Linked DNA regions of Homo sapiens. The protein of the gene in region 1 purifies or fractionates together with the protein of each later gene. This does not show direct contact. Each region holds a gene or a part of one and is shown in the gene's direction. Other genes may lie near its edges.

The links.
Region 2: the proteins of SRSF7 (region 1) and SON purify together in Homo sapiens (affinity purification with mass spectrometry; 2 studies listed by BioGRID and IntAct, with this or other methods). This does not show direct contact.

The regions. Positions count from the first base shown.
Region 1 is NC_000002.12:38,742,932-38,748,507, reverse strand, and holds the end of SRSF7 (serine/arginine-rich splicing factor 7), read left to right. Parts: intron 1-350; coding exon 351-461; intron 462-1,760; coding exon 1,761-1,814; intron 1,815-2,328; coding exon 2,329-2,364; intron 2,365-3,320; coding exon 3,321-3,375; 3' UTR 3,376-4,909; downstream 4,910-5,576.
Region 2 is NC_000021.9:33,573,820-33,578,076, forward strand, and holds the end of SON (protein SON), read left to right. Parts: intron 1-1,776; coding exon 1,777-1,848; intron 1,849-1,958; coding exon 1,959-2,074; intron 2,075-2,545; coding exon 2,546-2,605; 3' UTR 2,606-3,662; downstream 3,663-4,257. UniProt on the Homo sapiens protein: RNA-binding protein that acts as a mRNA splicing cofactor by promoting efficient splicing of transcripts that possess weak splice sites.

The DNA.
Region 1 (5,576 bases):
TCATTATTTTTTTTGGAGACAGGGTCTTGCTCTGTCACCCGGGCTGGAGTACAGGGGCATAACCACGACTCACTGCTGCCTTGATGATCTCTTGGGTTTAAGCAGTTCTCCTACCTCAGCCTCCCGAGTAGCTGGGACTGTAGGCACTGCCACCATACCCAGCTAATTTTTATTTTTGTAGAAATGGTCTTGCACTGTTTCCCAGGCTGGTCTCAAGCTCCTGGGCTCAAACGATCCTCCCGCAGTGCTGGGATTATGGGCATGAGCCACTGCACCGTTCCCCAGTTGAAGTCTTAACAGGCCAAAAAAAAAAAAAACTGTGGAGATGGACTTAAAGTTCTTTATTTTAGGTCAAGGTCAGCATCTCCTCGACGATCAAGATCTATCTCTCTTCGTAGATCAAGATCAGCTTCACTCAGAAGATCTAGGTCTGGTTCTATAAAAGGATCGAGGTATTTCCAGTATGTAACACTTTTTTTCCTTACTTGTGTTTGGATTGTTCACATCTTATCAGTAGAGTGTCTTAAGGACATAATTCAAATGGATTGCTTCAGGGAATATTTGAGATGTAAAAGTTTGGAATTTATGTGTAACTTGTAACATAAATATTAACCTAGTTTTACAGATGAAGAAAAGGGCTACTAGAGATTTTAAGGCTTGTTAGGCCGTGTGGTAGACAAGGGTCCCAAGCAATACAGTTCTACTCAACACTCTGGGTAGGCATGTTGCTATAAACTTTTCTGGCTTCAGATTGGATGATACTAGCTCTGAAAGATGGTAATTGATTTTCCCGACAAAAAGGCCTATTAGCACCAGGAAAAGAGATCAGAAGCAAGTAGAAACATTTCTCATTTTTGGAATGATGGGGTTGATTTGAGACACTGGAAAGTTGACTAGGGCAGTAGTGTGTACACAGAAATGAATGTGGATTTTTTTTTTTAGACCGTTTCAGACCTGAAAAAACTAAAGAACCAGAGCTTTACTATTTGTAGAAGGCCTTAAAAGGAGATAGAATGGAAAAAATTGTAAAATAAGTATTGCAACATGTAATTAACAATATTGTTATCTGTACCAACGATAAAACCGTGGTACGGAATGCTACTGGGAGTTAAATTGCTGTTTAATAGCACAAAACCTTTAAATGCAGGAATTCTGAATCTTGTGGTCTATTTGAGAAAGCTATGAACCATCTCTTTAGATAAATTTAAAAGATAGATATGTCAGTCTGATTTGGTTTGTCTGACAGATTGATGGCTCTCAAACATAACTTGATCCAGGAATAAAGCCTTACAAATGGGGGGCGGCTTTCTTTTCGTCTGGCCTTATCACCTGAATTAGTCTCAGTTCAGGGGTCTGGTTATTTTCATCCTGCCTTAGCCTCCTGAGTAGCTGGGACTGCCATTGTGTACCACAGTGCCCAGCTGAGGGATCTGTGCCTTAAGTGAGGTTAGTTTTGCTTCCTTCATACCAGTCTCATCAAATGAAAACCATGTATTTCCCTTGGATATTACACAGTGTTTGAGAATGTTATACCTGTACAGAAACTAACCAATTGAGTGATAGAAACAAGTAATTGAAATGGGGGTTCCTTATGTCTGGTAACACTTTGTTTGACAGTGTGTTAGACAGAATAAGGCAAGTGTTGCATCTTGTTTAGTTTTAGCTTCTTTATGCCTGACCAACCTAATACAGTGTTGAGTAGTTAAGGAAATTCCTTTGGACTGATTGATATAATTGTGTTTTTCACTTTTTTTATTAAGATCCCCGTCGAGGTCAAGATCAAGATCCAGGTCTATTTCACGACCAAGAAGCAGGTAGGGTAAAAATTTGATTATGCTTTTCTAGTTATATGGCACCAATATCCAAAGAGTTCAAAGTGTTTTTAATTGTTGAAATTTTAAGTGTTAACTCTAAACTTAGGTTTTAGTGGGAACACAGTACCTTATTTGTGTATGTCCTATTTATTACTGGCTGACTTTCCCTGAACAAGGGAATGTAAAACTATAGTGAGAAAGAAGCTTATGACTTGGGGGATTATATTAAAGAGGCCCTTGTTAGAACTGATAGGTGCATGGAGAAGCATCCTGAAATCGATGTGCTTAAAGCAGAATGTAAAAGATTAATCATGATGTAGTAATTGAGTCATTTTTTGAAAAACAGTTGTTGAAAGATTGGCTTTTGTTAGCAACAACTGGTAGGATGTTTTTCAGTTTAAGTGCAGTCTGACATTTTAAGCTTAGGACATTTGGGGGTTTTACGGTATTGGTGACTACAAGAAAGGGATTGGTTAGTACTCTTTCTTTAATAGAATTTCTCATGTTTTGACAGCCGATCAAAGTCCAGATCTCCATCTCCAAAAAGAAGGTAAGCTAAATGTTTTGTTGCCAAATCTTGCCTGTCAAGTGTGGCCTCTGCAGAATTTGTTTGCTTACTGCTTTGCAGTCTTTGAGCTCTTTGGAGAATTGGTGCTATATAGATTAAAATACTATGCTAAGTTTCTGAAATACTTTTTTTTTTTGATTCAGTAACATTAGTTTATACTTTTGCTGGAAATACTTAGTCATAAAATGTTAGGGTGATTATTAAGATGTGATTGGTCCTGTGAGTACTTGGTAGAAATTTTGGTAAGATAGATGCCTTTTCCCCACATGTACAATAGATACAAAGTGTGGAGAAAAGTCTTGGAAATAGTTACCTGCCTAGTGCTTCTTTATGACCAGAAAACTTCAAATAGTTGTCATATTTATCTAGTGCTTCTTAATGACCAGAAGACTTCAAATAGTTGTCATATTTAACTGCAGGTTGACCTTGCAATTTTGACAAGGAGGATAGCCTAATTTTTTTTTTTTTCTGGGATGGAGTTTTCGCTCTGTCCCCAGGCTTGGAGTGCAGTGGCTCAATCTTGGCTCACTGCAGCCTCCGATTCCCGGGTTCAAGCAATTATCCTGTCTCAGCCTCTTGAGCAGTTGGGATTACAGGCACCCACCGCCAAGCCTGGCTAATTTTTTGTATTTCTAGTAGAGACGGAGTTTCACCATGTTGGCGAGGTTGGTCTTAAACTCCTGATCTTAGGTGATCACCTGCCTCGGCCTCTCCCAAAGTGCTGGGGTTACAGGCGTGAGCCACCGTGCCTGGCCAGGGTAGCCTAATCTTAAGCCAGGGACAAAAGATGAATATATGTAAGTTTCATGTCATTTTTAGGTCTTTGCTATAGGAAATTAGTACCTTAGGCCACCTTTGAAGTTATTGAAAGTTAGTACATGTACATGAGAGTTTCAATTGACACTAATTGGATCCAAACCTAATGTTTTTCTTTTTAGTCGTTCCCCATCAGGAAGTCCTCGCAGAAGTGCAAGTCCTGAAAGAATGGACTGAAGCTCTCAAGTTCACCCTTTAGGGAAAAGTTATTTTGTTTACATTATTATAAGGGATTTGTGATGTCTGTAAAGTGTAACCTAGGAAAGATAATTCAACCATCTAATCAAAATGGATCTGGATTACTATGTAAATTCACAGCAGTAAGATAATATAAATTTTGTTGAATGTATTAACATCATATGGTCTGAAAATGTGGGTTTTTATTTGGCACATTTAAATAAAATGTTTCTAACTAGATTTTTGATTTGTGTTCAATATTAACACTTCTTAATTTGATATATTTGAGAGTCAGACATTATAATTGTTAACCTTATTCATACATACCTACATTCAGAATTGAAAGGTGTTGGTTAAGTCTTGAACATCACTATTCTATGCATAAAACTTGGCCAGGATCTTAAGGGACTTTGAAAATTCCATCTTACCCTTGTAGCTCTGGGTAAGATGACCTGAGTCCCTTATGATACAGCCTGAATGCATCATGACAGATCCTTAAGTTAGCTAATCCGTTTGAAGTTGGTGTTAGTAGGTATTGTATGATCAGTGGTGAAGCAAGTAGGACCACTGATGTGTCTAAATGAGCATGACAGGAACTAAACGAAACTGATTAAATGTATGAGAAATAGAAACATTTCTGGATGATCTTTATACTAATTGCAGCTTTCAGGCTACTAGGTGGCATAGTGTTAATTAGGACTCCCCAAGATATGGGGAGTTCTACTCTCAATGGTCTTGTTTCTTTGCTTTCTACATTAGTTAACCAGTTTTATACCAAAAAATGCATGTTTGAGGAATTGTCTGAAATTGGGACAAAACACCTTCATGTAAACCAGCTTTGCAAAATTTTCCAGCCCAGATACTCTTCATCTATTCAAATGGATTGTCTTATTCTGAGCAAAGACCTGTTGTTAATCTTCAAGCTAGGTTTTGCAGTTCCCAACCACAACATTCTTCTATTTTGCCAGGCTGGTGCAAAGTAATTAAAGATGTCAATCAGAAATGTCAATGAGACTAAAGTGGTTTTGTAAATCTCAGCTATATTTAGCAACACTCCATGTAGCTAATATTTTTTGGTAGCATCTGGTAGACCTTAGAATGTTACATAGCCAGTAGGTTCTTTATTCAAATTTTAAGTATCTTAAGAATAGTAGGGCAGTAACAGTTACTTTTGAGAGTTTTCTGGTCAAGCTTTTACCAGGCATTCTCTAGCCTTGGTACAAAAAAAAAAAAACCTGCTGGTTGCGCAGATACCTAGGCTTGTCCATTTTATGCATTTCAGCAAAGTCATTGGATACTATTGCAACTTGGGAATACTGGTCTGCATCAAGTTTATTCGGTAGTTTGACCGCTAGTATGTTGGAAGTTATTTGGATTGTTTTTGGAATTTTGACTGGCTGAATTATGGTTGGTATAAAGTTATGTGTATAACTGGCAGGCTTATTTATCTGTTGCACTTGGTTAGCTTTAATTGTTCTGTATTATTTAAAGATAAGTTTACTCAACAATAAATCTGCAGAGATTGAACAAATAATCCTGATACTTAATTTTTGGAAGTGGGAGCTCTCAGCCAAAAGTAGGAGGCATTAATCCTGTAGCTTTAGGATGGGCAGCTAGTAGCGTCCTAGAAATGAGTATAGAAAGGATAAAAAGGTGTGGAGGAGGGGTAGGGGCAAAAATGGTTTTAAACAAATTCCAGCCTTGTGGGGAAAAGGGCTGTTTGGGCCAATACCTCTTAGGTCATGTGCAACTTGGCACCCGTTACTGATAGATGCATTTCAAAATAAGCTTTGGTGCATCCCCCCACTTGTTTTCTGTGATTGGGATTGCCAAATTGATTGTCACTGATTGGAAGTGCTGCTCCAGACTCATTCCTTCTAAACTAGCCTAGCACTGATGAGTAATCAGTCAGTTTTTATTTTTAATTTTTAAAATTTTTTTGCTTGGTGCGGTGGCTCGCGCCTGTAATCCCCCAGCTACTTGGGAGTCTGAGGCGGGAGAATCACTTGAACCTGATTGAATAGAGGTTGCAGTGAGCTGAGATTGCGCCACTGTACTCCAGCCTGGGCGACAGAAAGACTCTGTCTCAAAAAAAAAAAATTAGTGTTGCAGTGAATGTACTGTACTGTACGTCATTGACAGGTGATGTACAGTACAGTACATCATTGATAGGTGAACATGCTTACCTAGATCATCCTCGG
Region 2 (4,257 bases), on another chromosome or scaffold:
TATTTTTTGTTAGATATTTTAGCACATCTTCATTATTTCCTATTACAATACTGGTTTAGTCTAGATTTCATAAACCCTGTTTGCTTTTTTCTTCCAAGCTCAGTAGTTAAGTTGGGTTAGAGTATAGTAGACCAGCTGCTGACAATAATGTTACTTCTTCCTGTTGCCTTGTGTTAAGGCATCTTGGAACTGTTAGCATTGACTGTATTTTCCTTTTACCTTCAGATACCTGGGCAGGGCAGCACTGTGTCTTCTATGTAGCTTGTATGTAGTTGCTAAGTATTTAATCATTCCCACAGATGATAGCTAATTGGCGTCTTTTAAATAACTTCTTCCCTTGGAATAATGTAAGTGGAATCATGAGAGGCTTGCCAGCTCAGTATGATTTTTGTATAGCTTGTTTAAACCTCATTTATAAAAGCTGACAAATGTAAAACTGGGATTTATTTTCATCTTTGTAATCAAACAGTAAGTTGAAGCTAACTTCAATAGTTAAACTGTCTTAATGAATTTGGAAATGAACTAGCTCTGCACCAAATACTTTGATGTTAAGTATTGTACAATTTCAGGAAGCATTGTCCTTGGAATTGTGGGACATGGCCTGACTGTAAGCTCTCAGAGAACCACAGATTTCCCAGGATAGGTTTAGAAAAGCTTATATTAGCATGGAATTATTTAGCAAAGGTTGAAAAATTTCCTGTAACATACAGGATGAGCATCCCACATCTGGAAACCTGAAATGCTTTAAAACAGAAAACTTTTTGAATACTGATATGATGCTCAAAGGAAATACTCATTGGTGCATTTTGGATTTCAGCCTCTTCAGATTTGGGATGCTTGACCGCTAAATACAATGCAAATATTTGAAAACCTGGAATCAACCGACACACTTCTGGTCCCAAGCATTTTGGATAAGGAATACTCAACCTGTATATGAATTGGGAAAGCAGTGTTTGGGTTTAGCAATGTAGCTAATCCCCTTTGTAATAAGTCTATGGAGAGAGAGGTTATGTAGAAAGGTTATGTTCATATTTTGAGAACATCTCCCATTTGTTAGGAAGGGAGAGGAGAGTTTGCTAGGAAAAAAGGGACCTATTTTATTTGGAGACAACCGTTTTCACCTTTTTGGTGGCTTAAAATCCTAACCTTTTTTGGAAGAGTCTTAACTGAAGCTTATTTTTTTAAGAGACAGTAAATCTGCAGAAATCACTTGGCAATAAGCTATTTTTTTTCTTTTTTTGAGATGGAGTTTTGCTCGTTGCCCAGGCTGTCAGTGGCACGATCTTTACTCACTGCAACCTTCGCTTCCAGGTTCAAGCGATTCTCCTGCCCCAGCCTCCCGAGTAGCTGGGATTACAGGCGCGCACCACCACGCCCGGCTAATTTTTGTTTCTTTAGTAGAGACGGGGTTTCACCATGTTGGCCAGGCTGGTCTCAGACTCTTGACCTCAGGAGATCCACCCGCCTCGGCCTCCCAAAGTGCTGGGATTACAGGCATGAGCCACTGTGCCTGGCCATACTTAACTTTTTGTTTTCTGTTTACATTTGGTATTTATTACAATTTCTCATACCAAGATCTATGAATATTAAATATAAATTTATATGCTGAAAAACAGTAAAAGAGAAGAAAGAGAAGATTGATAGAGAAATCGAGTGTACTAGGAATCTGCTGATTTTATTTGAAGGCATACATTTTGAGGTTCAGACTCCTACAGAGGGATCTTTGTTTTAAAGTGGTGCTTTGAAATTTATTTAGTGAACAATTTTTTTTTAAAGGTCTTGTTGCAGTAGGAGAAAGAGCACAAAAGAGGTCTGGGAACTTCTCTGCTGCAATGAAAGATCTGTCAGGTGAGAGCACGTTTTTGAATTTCCTCTTACCCTAATCCCACCTTGAATTCATTATTTGTTGCAGAAGTTGGTGGAAATAATTTAAAACTGGGTATTTCTCCCCCCTGCAGGCAAACATCCTGTGTCTGCTTTGATGGAGATCTGTAATAAAAGAAGGTGGCAACCACCTGAATTTCTATTGGTCCATGATAGTGGCCCTGATCATCGCAAACATTTTCTCTTTAGGGTAAATATGAATTTCTGCATTAATTATATATATTTATTAATGTGATGACTTAGAGGGTGAGGGGTAAACATGATCACAGGATTAAGATTCTGTTCATGGGTGGGGGGTTTGTATTTGTAGTTAAGTGGTGGGGTTTTTAAACACTGAAGGGTGCTTTAATACGACTTGTCAATGTCCTATTTTTTAAAAAATTGGAAAAGGGTAAAATATAGTATACAATTGTTATTTTCTAGTTGAATGTGGGGAATTAATTTAATACTTTTGTCAGTCTTTTTCTCAATTTGGAGACCTGCTCTAATTTGCAGTCCCTTTCCCAAATGATTTGGTTCTTCGGGTTGAGATTATAATTTGACTTACATAGTATGGGTTTTATATTTTTGTAAATTATTTTTCTAGCATTTAGTGAAAAAATACAAAGCTAATAGATATTAAAGTTTGATGCTGTTCTTATTGTATGTTTTTCTTGAATAGGTATTGAGAAATGGAGCCCTTACCAGACCCAATTGTATGTTTTTCTTGAATAGGTATTGATAAATGGAAGCGCTTACCAGCCCAGCTTTGCCAGCCCTAATAAGAAGCATGCTAAAGCCACAGCAGCTACTGTGGTTCTTCAAGCAATGGGCCTTGTACCAAAGGACCTCATGGCTAATGCCACTTGCTTCAGGAGTGCCTCACGTAGATAGATTGAGGTTTTATAATAATCATTTCAGAATTTTACTCTGCATCACAATGTATTTCCTCTTTAATGTTGTAAATATTTGGCAATTTAAGACATTGTGTAAAAAGCAATCTGTAAAAACATCTCCAGGCTTTGATTTTTGTACCATGGAAATTGTATTTAACCATACAGGGTTTTGGTATGTTTATATTGTTTACCTTAGTGATGTATTTGTTTAAGTGGCTAACATCCAAACGACTGTTTGAAGGCATCAGAGTAATCTTCAGTGTGGAATGTTAAATAACGCTTTTATACTGTATTTTGTACTATGATGTAACTCCCCTTCCTTATGGCTAGGCTACTGTAACACTTGCCTGTAATCAGTGAAGGGCTGTGCACCTTGTACTATTTCACAATGGGTTCTGCTGGACAGATAATGGGCCAGTGTTATTGAGGTGATCAAGATCTGTTCCACAGGGCTAATGCCACCATCTCCCCTCAAAATTTTGTAGAGGTTCTAAAAAGAAAGTGGTATGTTGTGTGATGATCAGCACTAAGTCCTGCATTCCTGTTAAAGCCACTTGGGTCATAAGAAGGGAGTAAAAAATGAAGTCTGACTAGAATTCTATTGCAGAGGCCAGTACATTTAGTATGGCATTGAGTTGTGATATAGTTTTACTTTGATGTGCATTTTGAATTTCAGCTACACCTAGATAGACGTAAAATGATAATTAAAATGCTGTAACCAACTTATCTAATAAAATTGGCAACCAGCCACTATTTTGTTGACTATGAGAAAGTTAAAAGTTTATGTTAATTTTTAGGGTCTGATAGAATATTTCATGTGTATTACAGTGGTATTCATATGCTATGTCTCTAAACTTTATTTTCAAAAGCTTAAGGCCCAAATACAAACTTCTCTGGAATAAACGTGGTGTTTTATTTTCTGGGTTATAAAGTGAACAAATACTTAGATACTATTATTTCTTTACCCAATGCTTTTGATTTTTAAGCACTTTTATTTTAAAAATGTGAATTATACAGTCCCCCCCTACACACACACACACACACACACACACACACACACACACACACACACACACACACACACACACACACACACACACACACACACACACACACACACACACCCCTATAAGCACATTAAATACTACTTTGCCGTGACAGCTCAGTGTACTTCACAATTCTTAACACTATTCTATGTGGAATACAAAATGCCTTTTTATCTGAATTAACATGCATTTAAAAAGTTTTAGTATATGTGAAAATAAAGGAATTATAAATCAGTAGGAAAGATATTAAGGTAGAAGCATCACCAATCAACTAGCTCAGTAGATGTTGTCTGTATTTATTTTCTACCTTTATGAAACAAGAACCTGCTAACAGGTAAATCGTAAAGTAACATATTTTTGCCCTGATGCCATTAGTCACAATGCCATGGGGTAACTGCTATGTGATTTCCCATTTGCAAGGAAGCATATTAATTCAGTTTCTGCTCAATATA